7 linked regions of the Homo sapiens genome follow. The protein of the gene in region 1 purifies or fractionates together with the protein of each later gene. This does not show direct contact. Each region holds a gene or a part of one and is shown on either strand. Other genes may lie near its edges.

Evidence for each region.
Region 2: the proteins of FBXL12 (region 1) and STYX purify together in Homo sapiens (affinity purification with mass spectrometry; 4 studies listed by BioGRID and IntAct, with this or other methods). This does not show direct contact.
Region 3: the proteins of FBXL12 (region 1) and CAPN2 purify together in Homo sapiens (affinity purification with mass spectrometry; 2 studies listed by BioGRID and IntAct, with this or other methods). This does not show direct contact.
Region 4: the proteins of FBXL12 (region 1) and ALDH3B1 purify together in Homo sapiens (affinity purification with western blotting, with the first as the bait; one study listed by BioGRID). This does not show direct contact.
Region 5: the proteins of FBXL12 (region 1) and ZNG1C purify together in Homo sapiens (affinity purification with mass spectrometry, with the first as the bait; one study listed by BioGRID). This does not show direct contact.
Region 6: the proteins of FBXL12 (region 1) and RNH1 purify together in Homo sapiens (affinity purification with mass spectrometry, with the first as the bait; one study listed by BioGRID). This does not show direct contact.
Region 7: the proteins of FBXL12 (region 1) and SLA purify together in Homo sapiens (affinity purification with mass spectrometry, with the first as the bait; one study listed by BioGRID). This does not show direct contact.

Annotation. Positions count from the first base shown.
Region 1 is NC_000019.10:9,816,280-9,820,533, forward strand, and holds the start of FBXL12 (F-box/LRR-repeat protein 12), read right to left. Parts: upstream 2,801-4,254; 5' UTR 2,535-2,800; coding exon 2,449-2,534; intron 2,339-2,448; coding exon 2,266-2,338; exon of another isoform or gene 1-2,265. UniProt on the Homo sapiens protein: Substrate-recognition component of the SCF (SKP1-CUL1-F-box protein)-type E3 ubiquitin ligase complex.
Region 2 is NC_000014.9:52,728,767-52,732,965, forward strand, and holds the start of STYX (serine/threonine/tyrosine-interacting protein), read left to right. Parts: upstream 1-1,399; 5' UTR 1,400-1,708; coding exon 1,709-1,765; intron 1,766-4,199. UniProt on the Homo sapiens protein: Catalytically inactive phosphatase. Acts as a nuclear anchor for MAPK1/MAPK3 (ERK1/ERK2). Modulates cell-fate decisions and cell migration by spatiotemporal regulation of MAPK1/MAPK3 (ERK1/ERK2).
Region 3 is NC_000001.11:223,743,539-223,747,038, forward strand, and holds part of CAPN2 (calpain-2 catalytic subunit), read left to right. Parts: intron 1-561; coding exon 562-680; intron 681-1,767; coding exon 1,768-1,901; intron 1,902-3,458; coding exon 3,459-3,500. UniProt on the Homo sapiens protein: Calcium-regulated non-lysosomal thiol-protease which catalyzes limited proteolysis of substrates involved in cytoskeletal remodeling and signal transduction. Proteolytically cleaves MYOC at 'Arg-226'.
Region 4 is NC_000011.10:68,020,327-68,023,826, forward strand, and holds part of ALDH3B1 (aldehyde dehydrogenase family 3 member B1), read left to right. Parts: intron 1-1,158; coding exon 1,159-1,545; intron 1,546-2,268; coding exon 2,269-2,435; intron 2,436-3,500. UniProt on the Homo sapiens protein: Oxidizes medium and long chain saturated and unsaturated fatty aldehydes generated in the plasma membrane into non-toxic fatty acids. May have a protective role against the cytotoxicity induced by lipid peroxidation.
Region 5 is NC_000009.12:68,293,983-68,297,258, forward strand, and holds part of ZNG1C (zinc-regulated GTPase metalloprotein activator 1C), read left to right. Parts: intron 1-3,276.
Region 6 is NC_000011.10:497,243-500,742, reverse strand, and holds part of RNH1 (ribonuclease inhibitor), read left to right. Parts: intron 1-88; coding exon 89-259; intron 260-743; coding exon 744-914; intron 915-1,557; coding exon 1,558-1,728; intron 1,729-1,809; coding exon 1,810-1,980; intron 1,981-2,115; coding exon 2,116-2,286; intron 2,287-2,601; coding exon 2,602-2,772; intron 2,773-3,500. UniProt on the Homo sapiens protein: Ribonuclease inhibitor which inhibits RNASE1, RNASE2 and angiogenin (ANG). May play a role in redox homeostasis. Required to inhibit the cytotoxic tRNA ribonuclease activity of ANG in the cytoplasm in absence of stress.
Region 7 is NC_000008.11:133,050,603-133,054,102, reverse strand, and holds part of SLA (src-like-adapter), read left to right. Parts: intron 1-3,187; coding exon 3,188-3,287; intron 3,288-3,500. UniProt on the Homo sapiens protein: Adapter protein, which negatively regulates T-cell receptor (TCR) signaling. Inhibits T-cell antigen-receptor induced activation of nuclear factor of activated T-cells. Involved in the negative regulation of positive selection and mitosis of T-cells.

The sequences.
Region 1 (4,254 bases):
TGAATTTCTCCCTAGAAAATGGGTTTTTCTTTTCTATCACATAGTCAGGCTACAAATTTTCCAAACTTTTCTGCTCTGCTTCCCCTATAAAACTGAATACCTTTAACAGTACCCAAGTCACCTCTTGAATGCTTTGCCACTTAGAAATTTCTTCCACTAGATACCCTAAAACATCTTTCTCAAGTTCAAAGTTCCACAAATCTCTAGGGCAGGGGCAAAATGCCATCAGTCTCTCTGCTAAAACATAACAAGAGTCACCTTTACTCCAGTTCCCAACAAGTTTCTCATCTCCATCTGAGACCACCTCAGCCTGGACCTTATTGATCATACCACTATCAGCATTTTGGGCAAAGTCACTCAACAAGTCTCTAGGAAGTTCCAAACTTTCCCACATTTTCCTGTCTTCTTTTGAGCCCCCCATACTGTTCCAACCTCTGACTGTTACCCAGTTCCAAAGATGCTTCTACATTTTTGGGTATCTTTTCAGCAACGCCCCACTTACCGCTACCAATTTACAGTATTAGTCTGTTTTCACACTGCTGCTAAAGACATACCTGAGACTGGGAAGAAAAAGAGGTTTAATTGAACTTAAGTTCCACATGGCTGGGGAGGCCTCAAAATCATGGCGGGAGGTGAAAGGCGCTTCTTAACATGTTGATGGCAAAAGAAAATGAGAAAGAAGCAAAAAAGGAAACCCCTGATAAACCCATCAGATCTTGTGAGACTTATTCACTATCACAAGAATAGCATGGGAAAGACTGGCCCCATGATTCAATTACTTTCCCCGGGTCCCTCCCACAACACGTGGGAATTCTGGGAGATAGAATTCAAGTTGAGATTTGGGTGGGGACACAGCCAAACCATATCATGAACCAAGAGAGAAAGAAACATGTTTTAATGAATCTTCTCAGGCGGCTGAGGCAGGAAGATGGCTTGAGCCCAGGAGATGGAGGTTGCAGTATGTTATGATTTTGCCACTGCCTGGGTGACAGAGTGAGATCCATCTCAAAAAAATAAATTAGAAAAAGATAAACTGCAGAGCATAAATGTTATGGGCTACTTTTGACAGAGGAATCAAATCTTCCTTGCCAAATTTAGACCCGTGTGGGTCAGCAGAAATTGACTAGAAATAGTGGCCACCGAATGGTAACTCACAAGGGTAGCAGTTAAAGTTGGTAAAATTTTAAATGCACACAAAACCAATGGACGAATCAACTTTTCCTCGCAAAACCAACAACTAAGTTTCAACAACTGAGAAAAAGTTTCATATTATCAGGCCAGACACTGTGGCTCACACCTGTAATCCCAGCACTTTGGGAGACTGAGGTTGGGGGACAGCTTCAGTCCAGGAGTTCGAGACCATCCTGGGCAACATAGCAAGACTCTGTCCTTAAAAAAAGAACTTCAAAAGCAACTGTATTAAAGGGAGTTACAGATGGATATATACAGTAAAATTGTTTAAAAGTAGAACACTATCTAAATAGTAGAACAGCATTACCCGAAGTTCAGAAATACATTACTAACACTATAATTGTTTTTGGACACACACATATGAAGTAACGTAAAAGGAAGGGTGCAAATTCACTTTATAATAGCAATTATCTATGAAGACAGTTTCAAAAAGGGCAACAAATATATCTATAAATGTTTTGAGCCAGTTGCTGTGGCTCATGCCTGTAATCTGAACACTTTGGGAGGCTAAGTCGGGAGAATCACTTGAGCCCAGGAGTTCGAGACCAGCCTGGGCAGCATAGTGAGACTCCGTCTCTACAAAAAATAAAAAATTAGCAGGTGTAGTGGCGAGCGCCCGTGGTTCCAGCTACTCAGGAGGCTGATGCGAGAGGATCGCTTGAGCTTGGGAGGTCGAGGCTGCAATCGCACCACTGCACTCCAGCCTGAGCAGCAGAGCGAGACTCTGTCTCAAAAACAAAACAAAAACTTGATAACATAGTCATAAATTAGCATTTATCGAATGATAAATATGTGCCAGACTGTTCTAAGCCCTTTCCCTGCGTGATCTCAGTGAAGTCCCATAATAGCCCCGTGAGGCAGGTACTGTCCTTTATCCCCATTGCAGGGATGAGGAAATTGAGGCCCTGAGGTCGAAGAGGAGCTGGTAAGCGATGATGCCGAGATAGGCCCCGGATCGCCTGGCTCTAAATCCCCAGCCCGGGCCCCGACACACAGTCCCAGGGTGGGAGAGGTGGTCTTCGGGGTCCGGGCACCGCGACCGCGGCCCAGGCCCGCCCGGCCAGCTGCGCGTACCGTGTAGAGCGTCAGGTCGACATGTCGCCACAGCCACCGGTCGTCCACCAGCCTCTTCCAGCGGTGACAGACCCTGGGGGAGGGGACGCGCGGTTAGAACGACCCCAGCCCCGGGCCACATCGCATCTCCAGGTGCCAGCTGCGCCCTCCGCCCTGCCCTTCCCCCCGGAGGCGGGGCCGCACCTGGAGATGCGGATCCGGTCCCGTACCGGGAGGTAAGAGAAGATCTCGAGCAGGACCGAGTCCGGCAGTTCGACCAAAGTCGCCATGATCCCGCCGACACGCACTTCCGCTTCCGGTTAAAGAGACCCGAGGGGTCCTGGGGGCGCCGAGGCGGCTGACAGGGCGGCGGCCGCGACCTTCCCGTAGCCGGTCGAGAAATTTGACCTTCCTCTCGCTGGGAAGTGATTCGGTCCCAGGGCCGGACCAGCCGCGGATGGGGACCAGAAACCAGCCTGGAAAGCGTGGCTGAGGCAGTGAGAGGCTTGCGGGAGGTGGCTGAGGCGTGATTTGGCCGCGACTGGGAACTAAGACCAAGTCCAGAAGGCGGGGCTGGAGTGAGGCGAAGCTCGGAGGCGGGGCTAGAGACGAGGACCAAGTCCGGAAGGCGTGGCCGGGGTGGGGTGAGGATCGGAGGCGGGGCTAGAGACCAGGACCAAGTCCGGAAGGCGTGGCTGGGGTGGGGCGAGGATCGGAGGCGGGGCTAGAGACGGGGACCAAGTCCGGAAGGCGTGGCTGGGGAGGGGCGAGACCCGGGGACGGGGCTAGAGGCGAGGCCCAAGCCCGGAAGGCGTCGCTGGAGTTGGGCGAGGCTCAGGGGCGGAGCCAGAGAACGGAACCAAGTCCAGAAGGCGGGGCTGGGGCGCGGCTAGGGGGCGGGGCTAGAGACGAGGACCAAGTCCAGAAGGCGTGGCTGGGGTGGGGCGAGGATCAAGCCCGGAAGGCGCGGCTGGAGCGGGGCGAGGCCTAGGTGGGGCTGCAGACGAGAACCACGCCTTGGAGGCGTGGCTAGGGCGGGTAGAGGCTCGGACAACCGCTGGAAGGCGGGGCTGGGGCGGGGCGAGACCTTGGGGGCGGGGTTGACGACGAGGACCTAGCCGAGAGGTCGTGGTCTGGACGGAAACCAGGCTGCAGCAGGACCAGGCGCCAAGGGCGTGGCTGGGGAGCGATGGAGACGCTCGGAAGGTGGGGAGCGGGGGACGGAGACAGGGAGAAGACTACGCCATGAAGGCGTGGTTGAGGCGGGGCGAGGCCTGTGGGTCTGGCCCCGAGCGAATGGCTTGGTAGAGAGTCAGAGAACTCTATTTTTTTACTTAATGATGCTTCTTGATGTCTATGCACAAGGATAAATTTGTATTACTGGAATATCGTGGCCAAAGGACCTGTTGAATTTTTCACTTTCATTGATACTACAGATATTTTCTGAATTGGCAAGTCCACCAAGAAACTATAAAAATGTGTGTGTGCAATGGCTGCACACAGCAGCTTCCTTGGTAGTGTACGCAGCCTGTTGGTTGTATGGGTTGCTCTAAGGGACCTTGGAGACAGGCCTTTCCGATGGATGTTCATGTTTCTAACCTTGCACTACCACAATGTAGGCTCCAAACAGGCATGTGAGGTGCCTTTGGAAAGCCCCAGGGCACTGTGGCCAGGGTTGACATTGGCCAAGTTATCATGTCCATCCGCACCAAGCTGCAGAACAAGGAGCATGCGATTGAGGCCTTGCGCAGGGCCAAGTTCAAGTTTCCTGGCCGCCAGAAGATCTACATCTCAAAGAAGTGGGGCTTCACCAAGTTCAATGCTGATGAATTTGAAGACATGGTGGCTGAGAAGCGGCTCATCCCAGATGGCTGTGGGGTCAAGTACATCCCCAATCGTGGCCCTCTGGACAAGTGGCTGGCCCTGCACTCATGAGGGCTTCCAATGTGCTGCCCCCCCTATTAATACTCACCAATAAATTCTACTTCCTGTCCAAAAAAAAAAATGTGT
Region 2 (4,199 bases), on another chromosome or scaffold:
AAGATGAACAGTTAAAATAGAAAATGGAGTGGTCAAGTTAGCCATCTCATACTCAAATTATTGTACAGTTCTATTTCTATGTGTTGGCAGTGCATTTTATGTGACAAAAAGTAGAATGTAGGGGGAGGTTTAAGTCAAATATCTATGTGATCTTTTCACTTATAATTTGCATTTAGTTAAGGAGTGACTATCTTGCCTTTTACCTTTGTGCTGGCGGTGGTTTTTTAAAGAATCAATTTGGTGTACAAATCCTTTCTTTCTTTTTTTATTTTTGATTTTTTTTGAGATGGAGTTTCGCTCTTGTTGCCCAGGCTGTAGTGCCATTGCACTATCTCAGCTCATTGCAACCTCCGCCTCCCGGATTTAAGCGGTTCTCCTGCCTCAGCCTTCTAAGTAGCTGCGATTACTGGCATGCGCCACCACACCCAGCTAATTTTTGTATTTTTAGTAGAGACGGGGTTTCTCCATGTTGGTCAGGCTGGTCTCAAACTCCCGACCTCAGGTGATCCACACGCCTCAGCCGCCCAAAGTGCTGGGATTACAGGCGTGAGCCTCCGCGCCCGGCCCAAATCTTTTCACCATGGGTTTACAGGCATAACGCCACCACACCCAGGGAATTTTAAAATTGTTTTTTAGAGAGGGGGGTCTTACTATTTTGCTCAGGCTGGCAAACTCCTTTTAAAAGATATTGAAAGCCATCTGGTTTATTATTTTTATTTCAAAATATAATAATGGAAGAAATTTTACAGTATTATATACAATTTACTGAGTCAGCTATCAGTTCCTTTTTCTGATTTTTTTCTAGTTGCCATTCTTGATATTTTCTAGGTAATCTAAACTGAGTTGTATTTTCAAGTACTCTTAAAATACTTTAAAAAATTTTAAATTGAGCCGTTTAATTCTTTGCTTAAAGGTGATGGGTATTTTATTTTCTGTATGGCACCACGTGATTTTAAATTGAACTCTTCATTTATTAGTCATTTGGTTATAAACTCAGCATAGATTGCGCAGAATTTTGAGAGGGGAGAAACTATAGCTTTCCTTTCGGATGCCACTGGTGGGTAGCCTGTTTTGCCTGTTTGTTCTTATGTTAAAGAAGGGCTCTACGTCCTGTCTGGAAAGGGCGGAGCTGGCTCGGACCGCCCCACTGCCTTTCCCAGGACCTTCACTCGTCCTGTCCCACCGCAGCCCCGCCTCCTCCACGCCGGGTGAGCTGTGGCCTAGCAGCATCCGAGGCTCCGCCCCCCCCACCCCCAAGCGTCTGCGCTCTAGCGAAGGGGCGGAGCAGGGCGGTGGCGCGCTGACACCTGGCGGCGGCGGAGGGCGGGCAGAAGGCGAGCGTGGGCTGGGATTGGCTGAGGCGACGCGGGTGGAGGGGGCGGGAAGGAGGCGGGGAGACGGTTGTCGGGCTGGTTCCTGTGCTGGATCCTGGGCGGCCTGAGGGGTACGGAGACTCTGGGGGAGGGAGACGGCAGCGGCATGGCGGCCGGGTGTAAGACGCCCGACCCTCCTCTTCCCTGTCTTCGCCGCCGCCGCTGCTGGAGTCACTGGGACCCTGTAGTCTGCGTGTGTTAGTTGTAATCCCGCCGCCCTCCTGTCAGCCCTCCGCTCCGCCGGCCCTCCTTCCTTCCGCCGCCGCAGCCAGCCCGAGGGTCGGCCGGCTGTGTAACACTCTCCCACCCCACCCACCAGCCCGCGGGCCAGCACCATGGAGGACGTGAAGCTGGAGTTCCCTTCCCTTCCACAGTGCAAGGAAGACGCCGAGGTGAGTCGCTCCCGTGGCTGCCACGCACAGGCCTCTCCCTGTGGCTCCGGCCGAGGGGCGACCCCAGTCCCCAACCGTCTTAGCCGCCACCTGTACGGGCGCCCTGCCTCCTAAGGGCGTCCCGGGACCTCTGAAGCCGAGCGGTCGGCTCCAATCCCCACTGAGTTGCTCGTCCTCTCCAGACCCCGCGGAGGGGCAGCGTCTGGTGTACTTACATTTGAGAAGAGGAAAAGCAATCCCTTAGTCCCTAGGCTTGGCATCCAGGACTGACCTGGAGTAAGGTTCCTCTTTTATTGTCAAAGTAACAAGAGAGCGAAGTTGGTTTAGTCTCCTTTTGAGGAATATCTGTGGTGTAAACGATTCACTTGTGGGACACATGGCCCCACATGTGAAATAGACTCGGCGCCTGAAGTTTGGAAGCGCGCCTTCGAAAAGTTTCCCAAAGTTTTTTGTTTGTTTTTAGACAAAGCTATGACCCGCACAACAAAGTGTCTCAAAGCTAGCTCATCTTAATCTGAGAACTCTTAATCAGAAATCTTGACCTTTGGAGGAAAATTAATATTGAAAGTAAAATACTATATACCTTTTCTCCTGGTTTCTAATTTGTGGCTATTTTTACTCCACCTTAGATCCCTGCCTGCTGTTTCTACTCGGATTTTTTTTCATCTGTTGCTAGTTTAACATTTTACGGCATTGCAGACTACTAAATTAGAATTTTCTGGAGGCTAAATTAACAAGACGAAGATACTCAGCTATACTTTAGTAGGATTAAGAAAGAAAATCTAACATCGCTAGTTAAAAATACCTTTAAAGTAGTTGGGAAAAATAAAGCCCTATTTTTAGGAGACCATTCAATTTATTCCGAATATTTATTCTATTGAATATCTTCATTGGAGGTTCACTTTTTTTTTTTTTTTTTTTTTGAGACGGAGTCTTGCTCTGTCGCCAGGCTGGAGTGCAATGTGGCGCGATCTCGGCTCACTGCAACCTCCGCCTTCCGGGTTCAAGCGATTCTCCTGCCTCAGCCTCCTGAGTAGCTGGAACTACAGGCGCGCACCACCACGCCCAGCTAATTTTTGTGTTTTTAGGGGAGACGGGTTTCACCATTTTGGCCAGGGTGGTCTCGATCTCCTGACCTTGTGATCCGCCCGACTCGGCCTCCCAAAGTGCTGAAATTGCAGGTATGAGCCACCGCGCCCGGCCTAGGTTCACATTTTTGTTTGGAGGGCTCTCTTGTGGTATTGATGCTTGACAATTACATTTGTTTTAAGAGTAGAGACTTTGTTTGTGACTATCACTGTTGCAAAATGTAGTGCAGTGGTGTGATCTCGGTTCACTGCAGTCTCGAACTCCCATGCTCAAGCCATCCTTTCACCTCAGCCTCTGGAGTAGCTGGGACCATGCCGGGCTAATTTTTCTTTTTTTTTTTTTTTGTAGCGATGGGTTTTTTCTCCAGGCTGGTCTCGAACTCTTGGCCTCAAGATCCTCCCGCCTTGTCCTCCGAAAGTGTTGGGATTACAGGTGTGAGCCACTGCACCTGGCCCAAGAATATACTCATGGTTTTTTTTTTTTTTTTTTTTTTGACACAGAGTTTCACTCTTGTTGCCCCAGGCTGGAGTGCAGTGGCGCTGTCTCAGCCCACCGCAGCCTCTGCCTCGGGTCCCGGTTCAAACAGTTCTCCTGCCTAAGCCTCCTGAGTAGCTGGGGATTACAGGCGCGCACCGCCAGGCCCAGCTTTTTTTTTTTTTTTTTTGAGACAGAGTCTCACTCTGTCGCCCAGGCTGGAATGATCTTGCAGTGGTGCGATCTGGGCTCACTGCAAGCTCTGCCTCCCGTGTTCACGCCATTCTCCCGCCTCAGCCTCCCGAGTAGCTGGGACTGCAGGCACCCGCTACCACACCGGGCTAATTTTTTTGTATTTTTAGTAGAGACGGGGTTTCACCATGTTGGCCAGGATGGTCTCAAACTCCTGACCTTGTGATCCGCCTGGCTTGGCCTCCCAAAGTGCAGGGATTACAGGCGTGAGCTACCGCGCCCGGCCAATATACTCTTAGAAAACAGGAGGTCATATTTAGGCTAGTTATAAAAATGAATTTATACTTAACATACAATAATGTGAATGAAGAGTATGCTTTTATTTATTTATTTATTTTTTTGAGACGGAGTTTCACTCTTGTTGCCCAGGCTGGAATGCAGTGGCGTGATCTCCGCTCACTGCAACCTCCGCCTCCCACGTTCAAAAGATTCTCCTGCCTCAGCCGCCTGAGTAGCTGGGATTACAGGCGCCCGCCACCACTCCCGTCTAATTTTTGTACTTTTAGTAGAGACGGGGTTTCACCATGTTGGCCCTGCTGGTCTGGAACGCCAGACCTCAAGTGATCCGCCTGCCTCGGCCTCCCAAAGTGCTGGGATTACAGGCTTGAGCCACCGCGAA
Region 3 (3,500 bases), on another chromosome or scaffold:
TGGAGTGCAGTGGTGCAATCATGGCTCACTGCAGCCTTGAAATCCTGGGCTCAAGGGATCCTCCTGCCGCAGCCTCCCAAGTATTCGTATTATAGCTGGGACTCCAGGTGTACGCCACCACACCCAGCCCAAACTCCCATTCAAAGCCTGTGTGCTCAGAAGCCTCTGCAGCTGCGCTGGTTTCATTCTCTCACTGTGGAGCATCTGCTGCGAATCAGGTGCAAGGCTGGGCTCTGAGGGCACAGTTCAGCCACCAGAGTTCTGGGTCTTTCAGGGAATGAAATTTCCCATCTCTGCCCAACCACAACACAGCAAAAACATTTCTCCCTTTGCATTTCCCTCAAAATACTAGGTTGGTGCAAAAATCACAATTACTTTTACACCAACCTAATAGCCCCCAAACCCTCTGACCCAACCCTCATATGGGGGACTGCCTGAAACTTCACTCTGTCTATTCACAGGTTGTCTTAGGCTTTAAGCCCCTGGAGGTGGAGACAAGATTTTTAACATCCTCCTGGTTCTAAGACCCTCTGATAAGAGCTCCTTGTGCTGTGTTCACAGGTGACTGCTGGCTGCTGGCAGCCATTGCCTCCCTCACCTTGAATGAAGAAATCCTGGCTCGAGTCGTCCCCCTAAACCAGAGCTTCCAGGAAAACTATGCAGGGATCTTTCACTTCCAGGTAACTTAATGGTTGGCTCAGGTGGTTCCTCAACAGGTCCAGGGGGCTAGGAACAGTCTTCTGGCTTGGCTGGGTTCATCAGTCCCTGGTGTTTGCAGACTCCCAAGACCAATACTGTTCTACAAAGGACATTGGGCGAGAGCAGGAAGCTTCCTGGCTTACCCGTGGCCAGGATGTGAGACCCGGCTGGGATGGCCCTGGGTGGTTTCTTGGGACATGTAAAAGGGAGGTAGAGCAAGGTGTTCAGGAACTAATTCCCAAGTTTAAAAAAAAAAACTGTATTATTTGATGTTTGAGACAAAAACGTTGAAGTTCTCCTCCTTTTATGCCGGTAAATGAGAAATAATACTTGAAAAAGCTGGCTGGGCACGGTAGCTCATGCCCGTAATCTCAGCACTTTGGGAGGCCGAGGTGGGCAGATCATTTGAGGTCAGGAGTTCGAGACCAGCCTGGCCAACATGATGAAACCCCATCTCTACTAAAAGTACAAAAATCAGTTGGGCGTAGTAGTGCAGGCCTGTAATCCCAGCTACTTGGGAGGCTGAGGCAGGAGAATCACTTTAACCTGGGAGGCAGAGGTTGGGAGGCCAAGGTGGGTGGATCACTTGAGCCCAGGAGTTCGAGACCAGCTGGGGCAACATGCTGAAACTCCGTCTCTACTAAAAACACAAAAAAAATTAGCCGGGTGTGGTGGCACGTGCCCTTAATCCCAGCTACTCGGGAGGCTGAGGCAAGAGAATCACTTGCATCCAGGAGGCAGAGGTTGCAGTGAGCCGAGATCGTGCCACTGCACTCCAGCCTGGGCAGAGCAAGACTTGGTCTCAAAAAAAAAAAAAAACAGCCTAAGGTACAGGGCAGAATGCTAAAGAGGCGGGTGTGGATTTGAAAGGATGGACATGCGCCTCTGTCTTCGCTTTTTTAGTGAGGACTTGGCCTGCATAGGAGAGTTAAGGGAGCACCTCCTCCCAGGATGCGCTCATGGAACCTATCCCAGGGGATCAGGGCAAGGGGAGCCAGAGGCAGCTGAGGCTCAGAGTCCCAGTGCTGCCACCAGCTCCTCCTGCAGCCCACCTCTCTTGTTCTGCAGTTCTGGCAATACGGCGAGTGGGTGGAGGTGGTGGTGGATGACAGGCTGCCCACCAAGGACGGGGAGCTGCTCTTTGTGCATTCAGCCGAAGGGAGCGAGTTCTGGAGCGCCCTGCTGGAGAAGGCATACGCCAAGTAAGTTGCCATCCTCCCCTGGCCCCATGGCCTTCCCCCAATGCCCTGGATTCCAAAAAATTCACTCATGCCTGTAATCTCAGCACTTTGGGAGGCCGAGGTGGGTGGATCATTTGAGGTCAGGAGTTCGAGACCAGCCTGGCCAACATGATGAAACCCCGTCTCTACTAAAAATATAAAAATCAGTAGAACTACTCCAGGACTACTTTGAGTGGGAAGTCCTTTTCTATAGAAGGACTTCTTTGGCCAAAATTAGGCTCTAAATGCAAGGAGATAGTGCATGCAGGGTGCCTGGCTGCACTGTACGCTGATAAATGATGTCTATCACCATCTTTAACCAAATGCACAGGAACAAGTTATGGTACTGATTGTGCTGGACTTGAGAAGGAGCTCTACTTCCTTGACAGGACACATTTGTATCAACTTAAAAAAGCAGAATTTTTGCCAATGGGCAGAACTATTCATTGCAGAGGTAGGAAACTTGCCCAGAATAGATGATGTCACTGATTAGCAATGGCTTCCCCATCTCCGCACAGCTGCTTCCCACCCAGGTTGCCCACAGTTGAGTTTGTCCAGTGCTCAGGGCTGCCCACTCTCAGTAAGAAGCCCCACACCAGCCCCTCTCCACAATGGCCCCATGTTGGCTGTGCCGCCCGGCTCCTTCCATTAAAGTGACCCCACTTTAGAGCAGCAAGTGGATTTCTGTTTCTTACAGTCCCAATCCAGGAAGGAGGAGTCAGCTGTGAGAACCTGGAGCCTGACGGATGCTTCTAAGTCCCACTGCTCAATACTGGGGTCAGGGAAGCCACCGGACTCCAGCATCAGCAGTCAGGAGCACTAAGCCCTTGCCAACACCGTGCCTGTTTCTCAGAGAAACTGCTTCCATTATTGAATGGTTGTCCTTTTTTAAGCTATCAATGCCAAACGACCCATTAGTAGACCTCCCCTTTCTTGTCAGGATGTAGAAGGAATCAATACAGGAGGTTCATCCAGAAAATCACTAAGGTCCTTCCGACTCTAAGGTTCTACGAGAATCTTTTTTTTTTTTTTTTTTTTTAATACGGAGCCTCATTCTGTCACCCAGGCTGGAGTGAGCGGCATGATCTCAGCTCACTGCAATTTCCACGTTCTGAGTTTCAGCAATTCTTTTGCCTCAGCCTCCCAAGTAGCTGGGACTACAGGCATGCACCACCATGCCCAGCTAATTTTTTTGTATTTTTAGTAGAGATGGTGTTTTGCCATGTTGGCCAGGCTGGTCTTGAACTCCTGACCTCAAGTGATCCGCCCACCTCGGCCTCCCAGAGTGCTGGGATTACAGGCATGAGCTACCGCGCCCGGCCTGAGATTTTCTTTAAAACACAAAATACCAGGGAAATGGTAACTGTGGACATTATACCTTGCCTTCCTGAGCACCCCGAGCTGGGAACAAGGCCAAGGAGAATGTGAGCAGGGGGTCCCTGGAGCATCAAATCTAGACGGTACTAGGGGGTGGCTGTTTGAGAGATTATAGCATCAGTAGTGTCAAGGGTAGCGGCAGCGTCTAATCCCCTCTTGTAGGATCAACGGATGCTATGAAGCGCTATCAGGGGGTGCCACCAC
Region 4 (3,500 bases), on another chromosome or scaffold:
GGGTTCAAGTGATGCTCATGCCTCAGCTTCCCAAGTAGCTGGGGTGACAGGCATGTACCACCACGCCCGGCTAATTTTTTGTATTTTTAGTAAAGACAGGGTCTCACTCTGTTGCTCAGGCTGGTCTCGAACTCTTGGCCTCAACCAGTCCTCCTGCCTTGGTCTCCTAAAGTGCAGGGATCACAGGCATGAGCCACCACACCCGGCTTCGAGTTTTTGAGCTAGGGAGGGGCAGAGGGAGCGAGAGGAAGACAGTGGTGCTGGCAGGCGAGTCTGCGCCTTACAGGTCGAGGCAGTCGTGGGGAAGGGCCTGGCAGGATTGACCTGGCCGCCTCCCAGCAAAGGCAAAGGAGCCCTGGAAGGAACCACAGAGCCCAGGAAGCACTGTGCCAGGATGGGGCAGGGGTGAGAGTAGAGAAGGCACAGTGGCTCCTGCCGGCTTTAATCCTTGACCACAAGGGGGAGAAATGCCAGGGCCATCCCCACAGACGCAGCAGCGTGGTCCCCGAGTCAGGTCTGGAGAGGAGGCCTTGAGGCCCAGACAGGGCTAGGGCAGAGAAGGCTGTGTGCATGCGGAGACTGCTGGGCCCCTGGAGGCCAGCACAGAGGAGAGGTGAGGCCAAGCCAGGCAGGACATGGGGACGCCTGCATCAGCCTGGGACAGTCCACCTCAAGGGTCAGAAAAAAAGGGCTGGGCAGGTGGCAGAACTTCCAGGTTTAGGTTTAGAGAAGAGAGACCTGAATGCCGTAGACAGAGCTGGACTCCATCCTTGGGTGATAAGGGATCCCCGAAGTTTCCAAAGGAGATGGGTGGGGAGGGGTTCCATGCAGCATTTTGCAAAGAGTCCCCTGCAGGGTCAGCCAGGGTCACAAGCAGAGGCGGGAGGAGCCAAGGGGTTTGGCTCAGCAGGGGGACCCTGGGGGCCGATAGCAGCCGTGCACCATTCCCTCCTGAGACTCTGTGCTTAGGGGCTGGTCCTGATGAAGGATGAGCAGGGCCCTGGGCTGCAGGGTGGCAGTGAGGAACAAGGAAAGGCCAGGCGAGGGCTGCTGCCCGCTGACTCCACCACCTCTCCAGGGAGGAGCGGGGCCGTGGGCTGGGCCATCCCGCCTGGTCCAGGTCACTGAACGGCCACTCTGGTTTCCTTCCATGCCCAGGGAGCCCTCGTGTGGGCAAGATTGTTATGACTGCTGCCGCCAAGCACCTGACACCTGTCACCCTGGAGCTGGGGGGCAAGAACCCTTGCTACGTGGACGACAACTGCGACCCCCAGACCGTGGCCAACCGCGTGGCCTGGTTCCGCTACTTCAACGCCGGCCAGACCTGCGTGGCCCCCGACTACGTCCTATGCAGCCCTGAGATGCAGGAGAGGCTGCTGCCTGCCCTGCAGAGCACCATCACCCGTTTCTATGGCGACGACCCCCAGAGCTCCCCAAACCTGGGCCGCATCATCAACCAGAAACAGTTCCAGCGGCTGCGGGCATTGCTGGGCTGCGGCCGTGTGGCCATTGGGGGCCAGAGCGATGAGAGCGATCGCTACATCGGTGAGTCCTGCTGCCCCTACCACAGCCCACCTGGGCCAAGACCCCTCCTCACTGGAGGGCCCAAGGCTGGGCCACAACTCTGGACCCGCGCCTGAAACCTGGCCCCACTGCCAGAGCCCGGCCTTGAGCCACAGCTCCAGTGCCATGATTCCGTCTCTGTGCTTCTAAGTCTGTGGCCCTATGAGGCCAAACTCTGGTCCCTCACCTTGGATTCGCTGAGCTCAGATCCCAGGGCTCCAGGGCTCAGCGTGCTAAGATGAACTCCCATCCCACCACTGGCTATCCTGAAAGGCTGTAACCTCAGATTCTCCGAGCCCACAATCCCCAGGTTCTAAACTCCGAGAGTCCCGTCCTGAGCCCCCAGTCTCCTGGGCCGTACGGCTCAGCAGCTCATGGGACACTGCGGCGCCAACATTCTGGGACGCTGTTGCCTCATGAACTCCAAGGGTTCTAAGATCCCATCACCCCTGACTGTGAGACCAAGGTCGGGGGATTCTCTGTGTCCCACAGGCCCTGAGCAGGCTGGGGAAGCTCTAGAGTCCCTTCTGGGGGGCTGTGGGGAGACTTTCTTCCCTAAACACTCCAAAGCCTGAAGCCTTGGGAAGTCAGACCTTGGGATCCTGGCCTAGAGCCCTGGCCTGTGGCCCTGTCCCCACCTCTACCCCCACCCTGGGGGCGGTCCTGACTGTGGCCCCAGGGCTGAGCTGTCTCTGGTGCCTGCAGCCCCCACGGTGCTGGTGGATGTGCAGGAGATGGAGCCTGTGATGCAGGAGGAGATCTTCGGGCCCATCCTGCCCATCGTGAACGTGCAGAGCTTGGACGAGGCCATCGAGTTCATCAACCGGCGGGAGAAGCCCCTGGCCCTGTACGCCTTCTCCAACAGCAGCCAGGTGGGGGTGCGGCCGGGCTGGGCAGGGTCAGGAGCCCGCAGTGGGCAGCACAAGTGGTGGCAGCAGGGGGGGCACCAAAATCCAGTGGCTTCAGGACTTTGGGATGGTGGACCTCTTGGCTCTGTCTCTGCCCACTCTCCTGGAAGCAGCTGAGCCTCACCCACCCCAACCCTGTCCCCAGTCTGGGCCCCACTCTCCTAGGCCTTCAGTGGGCAGCTTCCTGGGGTATGGGCCTTCTCTAGGGTCCAGTGTTTCCTCTAGGTCAGCCCCTGCCTTTGTCCTTCTTACACATCGGGGCCTGGTGGCCACATGACCCCTCAAGCCTGGCTCTGAAGGCACAGGCAACGTGTCGGGGATGACCCAAAGGTGCAGGTCCAAGAATGAGCCCTGATCCCCTACCCCTGCTTAAGCTGCAGAGGCAGCCTGGGAGGCCCAAGGCCAGAGTCCTCAGATTAAAAAACACCAAGAGGTACCAGCAGTCCCTACCCACCCCGCCCCCTTCCCCGGCCCTCAGCCAGTTCCTCGATTCCCTCCACTTGAACTTTTTTTTTTTTTTTTTTGAGACAGAGTCTCACTCTGTCACCCAGGCTGGAGTGCAGTAGCACAGTCTTGGCTCACTGCAACCTCTGCCTCCCGGGTTCAAGCGATTCTCCTGCCTCAACCTCCTGTGTAGCTGGGATTACAGGCGTGTGCCACTATGCCCGGCTAATTCTTTGTATTTTTAGTAGAGATGGGGTTTTGCCACATTGGTCAGGCTAGTCTTGAACTGCTGACCTCAGGTGATCCACCTGCCTCGGCCTCCCAAAGTGCTGGGATTACAGGGATGAGCCACCGTGCCCGGCCACTTGAACTTTTTTTAAATAAACTTTGTATTGGGAAATACTTTTAGATTTACAGAAAAGTTGCCAAAATGGTACAGAGAGTTCCCATGTACCCCACACCTAATTTCCCCCATTTAATGGTGCTTAGATGGGTCAAAACTAAAAAAGTGATGGCAGGGCTGGGCGCGGTGGCTCACACCTGTAATCTCAGCACTTTGGGAGGCCAAGGTGGGAGGATTGCTTG
Region 5 (3,276 bases), on another chromosome or scaffold:
ACTTTCTCAGACCACAGTGGAATAAAACTGGAAATCAACTCCAAAAGGAACCTTCAAAACCATGCAGATACATGGAATAACCTGCTCCTGGATGATCTTTGGGTCAAAGATGAAATCAAGATGGAAATGTAAAAATTCCTCAAACTGAATGACAATAGTGACACAACCTATCAACCTCTGGGATACAGCAAAGGTGGTGCTAAGAGGAAAGTTCATAGCCCTAAATGCCTACATCAAAAAGTTGGAAAGAGCACAGACAATCTAAGGTCACATCTCAAAGAACTAGAGAAACAAGAACAAACCCAGCAGAAGAAAGAAGATCAGAGCGGAATTAAATGAAATTGAAACAAAACAACAAAAAAATCCAAAAGATAAATGAAACAAAAAGCTGGTTCTTTGAAAAGATAAATAAAATTGATAGACCGTTAGCAAGATTAGCCAAGAAAAGAGAGAAAATCCAAATAAGCTCAATAAGAAATGAAACGGGAGATATTACAACTGACACCACAGAAATACAAAAGATATTCAAGGCTACCATGAACACCTTTACATGCATAAACTAGAAAACCTAAAATAGATGGATAAATTCCTGGAAAGATACAACCCTCCTAGCTTAAATCAGGAAGAATTACCCTGAACAGACCAGTAACAAGCAGGGAGATTGAAATGGTAATTAAAAAATTACCAACAAAAAAATGTCCAGGACTAGACGGATTCACAACAGAATTCCACCAGATATTCAAAGAAGAATTGGTACCAGTCTTAAAGACACTATTCCACAAGAGAGAGAAAGAAGGAATCCTCCCTAAATCATTCTATGAAGCCAGTATCACCCTAATACCAAAACCAGGAAAGGACATAACCAAAGAAGAAAACTACAGACCAATATCCTTGAACATAGATGCTAAAATCCTTAAGAAAATTCTAGCTAACTGATTCCAACAACATATCAAAAAGATAATCCACCATGATCAAGGGGTTTCATACCAGGGATGCAGGGATGGTTTAACATACACATGTGCGTAGCCAAAGCAAGACTAAGCAAAAAGAACAAATCTGAAGGCATCACATTACCTGATTTCAAACTTATACTATAAGGCCATAGTCACCAAAACAGCATGGTACGGTTATAAAAATAGGCACATGGACCAATGGAACAGAATAGAGAACCCAGAAATAAACCCAAATACTTACAGCCAACTGATCTTCAACAAAGCAAACAAAAACGTAAAGTGGAAAAAGGATACCCTTTTCAACAAATGGTGCTGGGATAATTGGCTAGCCACATGTAGGAGAATGAAACTGGATCCTCCTCTCTCACTGTATACAAAAATCAACCCAAGATAAATTAAAGACTTAAATCTAAGACCTGAAACTATAAAAATTCTAAAAGATACCATTGGAAAAATCATTCTAGACATTGGCTTAGGCAAGGATTTCATGAACCCAAAAGCAAATGCAATAAAAACAAAGATAAATAGCTGGGACTTAATTAAACTAAAGAACTTTTGCAGAGCAAAAGGAAAAGTCAGCAGAGTAAACAGACAACCCACAGAGAAGGAGAAAATCTTTCATAATATATACATCTGAAAAAGAACAAATATCCAGAATCTACAATGAACTCCAACAAATCAGCAAGAAAAGCAGTCCCATCAAAAAGTGGGCTAAGGACATGAATAGACAATTCTTAAAAGAAGATATACAAATGGCCAATAAACATATGGAAAAATGCTCAACATCACTAATGATCAGGGAAATGCAAATCAAAACCACAGTGCGATACCACCTTACTTCTGCAAGAATGGCCATAATAAAAAAATCAAAAAAATAGTAGATGTTGGCATGGATGTGGTGAACACGGAACACTTCTACACTGCTGGTGGGAATGTAAACTAGTACAACCACTATGGAAAACAGTGTGGAGATTCCTTAAAGAACTAAAAGTAGAACTACCATTTGGTCCAGCAATCCCACTACTAGATATCCACCCAGAGGAAAAGAAGTCATTATACAAAAAAGATACGTGCACACGCATGTTTATAGCAGCACAATTCGCAATTGCAAAAACGTGGAACCAACCCAAATGCCCATCAATCAATGCGTGGATAAAGTAACTGTGATATATATACATACAATGGAATACTCCTCAGCCATAAAAAGGAGTGAATTAATGGCATTCACAGTGACCTGGATAAGATTGGAGACTATTATTCTAAGTGAAAGAACTCAGGAATGGAAAACCAAACATCGCTATGTTCTCACTCATAAGTGGGAGCTAAGCTATGAGGATGCAAAGGCATAAGAATGACACAATAAACTTTGGGGACTCAGGGAGAAAGGGTGGGAAGGGGATGAGGAATAAAAGACAAAAATTGGGTGCAGTGTATACTGCTCAGGTGATGGGTGTACCAAAATCTCACAAATCACCACTAAAGAAGTTAACCAACACCACCTGTTCCCCAGTAACCTATGGAAAGAAAGAAATGTCTCATATGTTTCTGCCTAAATTGGTCTTTAATACTTTAGCGATTCTCTTGAGTTTGGATTATAAAATAGTTTTTGGTCTTTTTGTATTTTCTGCTGTAAGCCTGTATGATTATGTAATGGTGAGTAAAATTGCTAGGCCAGATACGCAGTTCTAGGAAGTTATGCAAAGATGTGCTTTAGTATATTATTTTCTACCTTTTTAAATTCATTTTGAGCTTGGCTTTTGAGCCTCTATTTTCCAAGGTGGGGTGTATGTTTTTATAATGTTATGCTTAGCCCTTGTGTATTTTCATCTCTGAGTTTGAAATTTGGGGTTATATTGGCAAAGGGAGGTTTGGGTTTTAATTAGGTGACCTGTTAGAGGAAATGTTAAGCTTCTGTTTCTTTAGGGTAGACAGTGAGAGATTTATCAAGATAAAGAAGAAAAATAAATCCTAAAGTTAATATTCAATACATGATGATGTCACCCTTACTAAAGCCAAAGAGGGCATTATCCTATCATTCTCATCGCTAAGAACTCTTCTCCTCTTGGCACATGCTTATTCAGTTAAAGATAAGCCAAGCCTTTCTTTTGTATTTTTTTTTTAAGAGAACAAATTTACTTTGGTTTTGAGTTTTATTCCTGGCTCTGGGTAGCTTATTTTTTTGACCCTTATTTTCCCCAATTTATAAAATGAAATAGTTATCTTCACTCCCCAGGATTGTTGTGAAGAGTAAGTCAAAAGATACAATGAGGTGACTCAGGCAAAAGTACCTGGCCCTGTGTAGTGAGTACATTGTATGTGTTAC
Region 6 (3,500 bases), on another chromosome or scaffold:
ATAGGTTGTAACCTGCACGTGGGGTGGTGGTGGAGGCTGAGGCCAGTGCTGTCTGCGTGGTCCACATGACCCTGGGGTCTGCTCACAGGCTGGACGACTGTGGCCTCACGGAAGCACGGTGCAAGGACATCAGCTCTGCACTTCGAGTCAACCCTGCACTGGCAGAGCTCAACCTGCGCAGCAACGAGCTGGGCGATGTCGGCGTGCATTGCGTGCTCCAGGGCCTGCAGACCCCCTCCTGCAAGATCCAGAAGCTGAGGTGAGGCGGGGCCTGGCACTGCCTCTGGCCTGGTGCAGTCTGCTTTGGTAGCCCGGCAGCAGGGGACAGAGCCGCCAGGGGCGCGTGGGCAGCTGCAGGTGGACAGGCAGTGGCAGCAGACATTTCCAACATCAGCCAGAGGCACACAGGCCTGGCGGTCTCACAGCGGGGGGGACAGGGCCCTTCCTGCCTTATCCCAGCCCCCGCACCCAAGATCTGGCCCTGCCCGCCATCCCTAGCCTTCCAGCATCACCACAGACCCCCACTGAAAGGTGTGTCTGCAGACAAGGTTTCCCTGGGTCGAGCCACATGCGTGCCCTCCTTCACTCGGCCTGGAGACCCCAGACCCCAGAGCCCCGTCCAGGGAAGGAGCAGGTATAGACCTGCCGCCTGAAGAGTGCTGCTCCGGGCTCTGGGCTCTGGCAGGCGAAGGGCGTGGCAGCTTGGCTCAGGGGAGCCCTGCTGACAGCCAGGTATGCTCCAGCCTCCAGAACTGCTGCCTGACGGGGGCCGGCTGCGGGGTCCTGTCCAGCACACTACGCACCCTGCCCACCCTGCAGGAGCTGCACCTCAGCGACAACCTCTTGGGGGATGCGGGCCTGCAGCTGCTCTGCGAAGGACTCCTGGACCCCCAGTGCCGCCTGGAAAAGCTGCAGTGAGTTTGTGTCCTGCCCCAGGGCCCATGCTGGCCGCTGCCTGTCCCCCAGCCAGCCCCCTACATAGAACATCGCCTGCCAGGAGCCGTGAGGAGGGGACTCAGGTCACAGGGGCCTTGTGGTGCTCTCCTTTCCCCATGATGCTGGGTCTGGGGCCTTGTGGTGCTCTCCTCTCCCCATGATGCTGGGGCTGGGGGGATCTGTCATCACCCTCCCTCCCCATCCAGTTGTCCTTTGCAAGGCACAGCTGCCCCAGGACCCGACGGTGGGAACAGATGCCTGGCCGTGAGTCAGGTTCCACTCACCGCCTCAGTGTGTGTGGGGGACCCGGCCATTGTGAGTTGACCACAGCCTGGGACGTGCAGGTGGCCCTGCCCTCCAGAGGCTGGTTTCTTTCTCCCGGGCCTGGTTGGGCCCCAAAGTCTGAGGTCCGGGAGGGGGTGAGGGGTTTCCAGAAGGAATGCCGGTGTCCACAGAGGCCCGGGCCTCTGGATGAGTCTGTGGGGGTCCCTCAGCACTGACACCTGATGCCCAGGCAGAAGACTGAGGGGAGATGAGACACCAGCACACCCCGTGCTCCCTGGTATCACACCCTTGGCTGGTGCACATTCCTGTGTGGTGCTGAGCTCTGCTGTCCCCCAGGCTGGAGTATTGCAGCCTCTCGGCTGCCAGCTGCGAGCCCCTGGCCTCCGTGCTCAGGGCCAAGCCGGACTTCAAGGAGCTCACGGTTAGCAACAACGACATCAATGAGGCTGGCGTCCGTGTGCTGTGCCAGGGCCTGAAGGACTCCCCCTGCCAGCTGGAGGCGCTCAAGTAGGCACTGGGCCTTGGGGGGGTGCGGGGTGTGGGCTAGGGGGGGTCCCGTGCTGCCTCACGTGTGACCCGTGTCCCCAGGCTGGAGAGCTGCGGTGTGACATCAGACAACTGCCGGGACCTGTGCGGCATTGTGGCCTCCAAGGCCTCGCTGCGGGAGCTGGCCCTGGGCAGCAACAAGCTGGGTGATGTGGGCATGGCGGAGCTGTGCCCAGGGCTGCTCCACCCCAGCTCCAGGCTCAGGACCCTGTGGTGAGTCATCTCCGCGAGGCCTCCTTCCCGGAGGGTCGGGCGGCGGGCCGTCCTCAGAGCTCTCCCCCGCCCCTGGGCTCATCTCAGGCCATGAGACGGTGCTGAGGAAAGTCTGTGGTGGTCCATGTCCTGCAGGATCTGGGAGTGTGGCATCACTGCCAAGGGCTGCGGGGATCTGTGCCGTGTCCTCAGGGCCAAGGAGAGCCTGAAGGAGCTCAGCCTGGCCGGCAACGAGCTGGGGGATGAGGGTGCCCGACTGCTGTGTGAGACCCTGCTGGAACCTGGCTGCCAGCTGGAGTCGCTGTGGTGAGTGTGGCTGTCGGGGCAGGGCCCTGTCGCCCAAGAGAGGGCCAGGGTGACCGAGGAGACCAGGGGAGGAGTGAGCGACTCCAGGGAAGCTGCTGGGCTCAGCTCCGACCTTCAGAATGCATAGGCCAGGGAGCAGCCTGTGGTTTGATGGGAACAGTGCTTGGGGCCAAGGACCAGGTGTAGGTGCCCACTTGCTGGGAGGCTGTCAGATGTTTTTGCTCAGGTCCACGTGGGGCCTTCAGGGGAAGGGCCAGTCGCAGCTGTGGGCCAGCCTGGGCCCCTGCCAGGCGTCAGTCCTGTCTGTGTCCACAGGGTGAAGTCCTGCAGCTTCACAGCCGCCTGCTGCTCCCACTTCAGCTCAGTGCTGGCCCAGAACAGGTTTCTCCTGGAGCTACAGATAAGCAACAACAGGCTGGAGGATGCGGGCGTGCGGGAGCTGTGCCAGGGCCTGGGCCAGCCTGGCTCTGTGCTGCGGGTGCTCTGGTGAGTGTGTGAGGGACACGAGTATGCACATTTGGGAGATCATATGCCCGTGTGTGCACACAAGGGCGAGAGTGCACGAGTATCTGTGTGAGCACGAGTGTCCGTGTGTATGTGAGCACACATGGGTGAGGCGAGTGTGAGCACGTGTGTGAGCATATGAGTGTGAGCATGGGTGTCCGTGAGCATGTGAGAGTGAGCACGTGTCCGTGTGAGCACGTGAGTGAGCACGAGGGTCCGTGTGTGAGCACATGGGCAAGAATGAGCACGAGTGTCCGTGTGTGAGCACATGGGTGAGCACGTGTGTGTGAGCACATGGGTGAGAGCACGAGTGTCCGTGTGTGAGCACGTGAGAGTGAGCACGAGGGTCAGTGTGTGAGCACATGGGCAAGAATGAGCACGTGTCCGTGTGTGAGCACGTGAGAGTGAGCACGAGGGTCCGTGTGTGAGCACATGGGCAAGAATGAGCACGAGTGTCCGTGTGAGTGTGAGCACATGGGCGAGAGGGAGCACGAGTGTGTGTGAGCACATGGGCGAGAGAGCATGAGTGTCCGTGTGTGAGCACATGGGTGAGAGCACGAGTGTCCGAGTGTGAGCACATGGGTGAGTGAGCATGAGTGTCCGTGTGTGAGCACGTGAGAGTGAGCACGAGGGTCCGTGTGTGAGCACATGGGCAAGAATGAGCACGAGTGTCCGTGTGTGAGCACATGGGCGAGAGTGAGCATGAGTGT
Region 7 (3,500 bases), on another chromosome or scaffold:
TTCTGTAGCAACCAAAGCTCAGGGAAGACTTTGAAGGGATCCTGGCACCAGGCCTTGCTTAAAATGGCCACCCTGCCCCACAGAAGTACAAGCCAAACTGTAATACCTTCCCAGTGACTTTGTCCCGTTTGGCTAATGGTGATGATAAAGAGAGGTGAAATCTCTTGCAAAGGATCAGGCACAGGTTATCTGACCCTTAAGCAAAAGCCCAGATGTAAAGTTTCCTCAGTGATGTTTAAGTGCCATAGCTATCAAAACATCACTATTACGGAAATTCCACAGGAAACTTAACTTTGTTATTGTGAAATTGAAACTCTCCAACACTCTAAGCCTCCCTTTCCCTCATTGGAACAGTGGTTTTTATAATGGGATTTTGCTTTTGTTTTTGTTTCTGTTGGTTTTTGTTTTTAATGTTAGGAAAGACAATTGTTCTGTTCCACAGTCTTAATCTTGAATTTGATATCAAACCTCAAACCCCTCTGTAGACACACCATCTACCTCAAGGTTCTATTATTGTCACAGAGAACACACACTGTGCCTCCCCATTTCAACACGTTTTTTGCAAGGGGCTGGTTCCACAATGGCCACCTACCCAGCTGCCTCCCACAAATCAGGTTTCCTTCTGCCTGGATCTGCTTTAAAACTGTAGCTTGACAGCTGTATTTAAGGGGCATTGCAGCACAGGGACCGCTCTGCACATTCAGTAAGCCTGCTTTGAGCATCCTTTGTAAAACAGGTGTGGCACAGGCTACAGACACAGAAGACACCAGTATTCTGCCCTCCCGGAACTCACAGCCGGGGGTGGGGACAGATGGGCATTCCCCTGACAGTCACACAAATGGGAAAATGCAACCTGGGGTAACCGCTTCAGAGGAAAATCTTAGGGGCCAAGAGGAAGAATTAGTACAGCAGGAAGGCTGAGCCTCCTCTGGAGCCTCTGCAGAGGTGAGTTTAGAGTTGACAAAGGTGGGAACGGTGAAGGAGGGAAGAGCAGGGTGTGTTCCAGGCAGAGGGAACAGCCTATCCGGAGGCTCTGAGAACCAGGGTGCCTGGCAAGTTGGAGAAAGGCCCATCACATGTAGCCGAGGCAGCACAGTGCCATGTTAATAAACGGCCCATTCATATGTGGGGGCCATTAGTCCAGGAAGATAGATTTCCATCTTGAAGGTGTTTTTCAACCTCTCATTTTCCAGACTAGGAAACCCAGGCCCAAGAGGAGAAGGAGGCGTCCCACTCAGTGAGTGGCAAAGTCAGCCTCAGCTTCTGGGCAGATTTGCCAGGAAGCCAAACAAATCATACGCCTGAGACCCCCTTGCTGGTACAGCACCTTGCTGGGGTCTGTCCTTCATTTTGTATTTGCAATTGTGTATTTTTTTCTTAAAGAGGACTGCCAAATTTGCTTAAGCTTTATGCCCTGCCAAATGTGAACCTGCCCTTTGTGAGAACTTGGGACTTCTGGCTTCAAACTTAACACAACTGTAATGCTGCCTCTACTTACTGGGGTGGAGTCAAAGCTACACAGGGAAGAATCCCTTTTTTGAATTCAGCAAAGCAGAATGTGAGGGAGCTGCCCCCACAGGTTTGGGGAAGGTCTGCAGCAGGACAGGTCAGAGGTCTGGCTGGGCCAGCCCTTTTACGTCCCGACACGACTGTTTCTCAAAAGCCCTGATCCCTTTCCATATTGTAAAGCCACTAAAGATCACTCTTGGTTTCTGTCTTACACCCAGAAACTCTTGCTTTTACATGGCTTATTGTCAGGGACTCAGCTTCCCCAAATGAACAATACATTTGACTGCACTGTTCCACCGTGATTACTTGTTTCTAATTTATTTATCAATCGATAAGCATAACCTTTGCCCAAAACCTCACTCATCTTTCTCACTGATTCTAGTATTTAATCTCTCTTTAGACTTAGTCTGCCCAAGAGGCTTATGACTCGGAGGCTGCAAGACATATGAGTTGTAAGAGGCAGGATCTAGAGGTGTGTGGATCCTAGAAAGTGGCTTGTTTGGGCCCCAAAGCCCACATGCCTGAGTACTGGGATTTCTCCAGATCTTGGGGTGAGCGAACCAGGGAACAGTTCCTCCCATGACTATTTATGTATCCTGTAGAACATGAGCTCCGTGAAAGCAGCAAGAATGGGCTTGCTTTTCTCACCTATGCTGCTTACGACAGGTGCTCAGTAAGTAGTTGCCGAATGAATAAACAGGTGATGTTACCCAGAATTTTAAGTTCAAAGTCCCAGCCAGCAGGTGGAGTGATGAAAGTCATAGCAAATAATAACTGTATTTGCTGATACAGAAGACATCTTGTTATTTCCCCCAAAAATGTATCCAAATATTACCCTGCATCTAATGCATCTGAATTACATCAAATCACTAAGGATAGAAGCAGACGTATCGCTCAGTGTCAAAAAGCAAAATCACTGTCTCTCCTCTACAGTCAGGAACCAGACAGCCCTCTTTCCTTTTCAAAACTTCACCAGAATTCCTTTCAATACACTATTAGGAAAAGTACTAAGTTTTTCTTCCACCACCCCCACCCTCAACAAATGTCCCTATTAAATAGATGCCCAGCGTGGGGCCTTATATTCTGCAAGAAATAAGTATTTTGTTTAACCTCAGAGTTACTGCCTCATGGTCCTAATGGGTCCTCAGAACTCATTTTGCCTCACACTCCTTCCCCAAAAGTGTCATAGATATAACAACTCTGAGTCCCAGAGTGGACACCCGAGGCATTGGTAGTGAGAAGGGGGGTTTTTACAGCAACTTATGTGAACGTATGTGGTGTAACATACTCTCATCTCCTCTCCTAAGGACCCTGGAATGAGGTAGTATTAGTCCCATTTTAAAGATGGAGAGGGTGAGGCTAGTAGACTCGTAACAGGCGCTGAAGCCAGACCCCATGACTCATCTCACAGCCTTTGGATCCCATTTCTCAGATGAGAACATGAGGGCCAAGGCAGGCTTAAGAATAGGAGCATGTCACCTGACCCTCAGGGCTCGTACGCACACCCTGCAGAGCCATCTCTGAAGAGAGGACCTTGCTGTAAATTGGTGGTTCAAAACAAGAAAGGTATTTCCTGCTGGAAAATCTCATCTTCATACCCTCCCTCCCAAGCCTACCTTTAAGCTCCTTGTGAATAAAAAGCACCTTGCCCCCTTCCCCCTTGCCTTTGTTTCCCCAGGACTGGATAGCGACTTCCTTGCCGTGCTAAGTGACTACCCGTCTCCTGACATCAGCCCCCCGATATTCCGCCGAGGGGAGAAACTGCGTGTGATTTCTGAGTGAGTCAGCTCTCCAAAACTTGTGCAATCTTCAAAGCAGGATAAACTTGGTTTGGGAGAAAAGTATTTGATTGTTAGCTAGAGTGGTCTAGTTCCACATGAGTCCTGGTCCTATTATGAGGTGAGAAATTTGACCCATACTGCAACCTTCCTCTTTAATGTGGCCAGTGCTCTAGAACCTTCCATAGCTCCCCACTGCCTGGTAGATCAAAT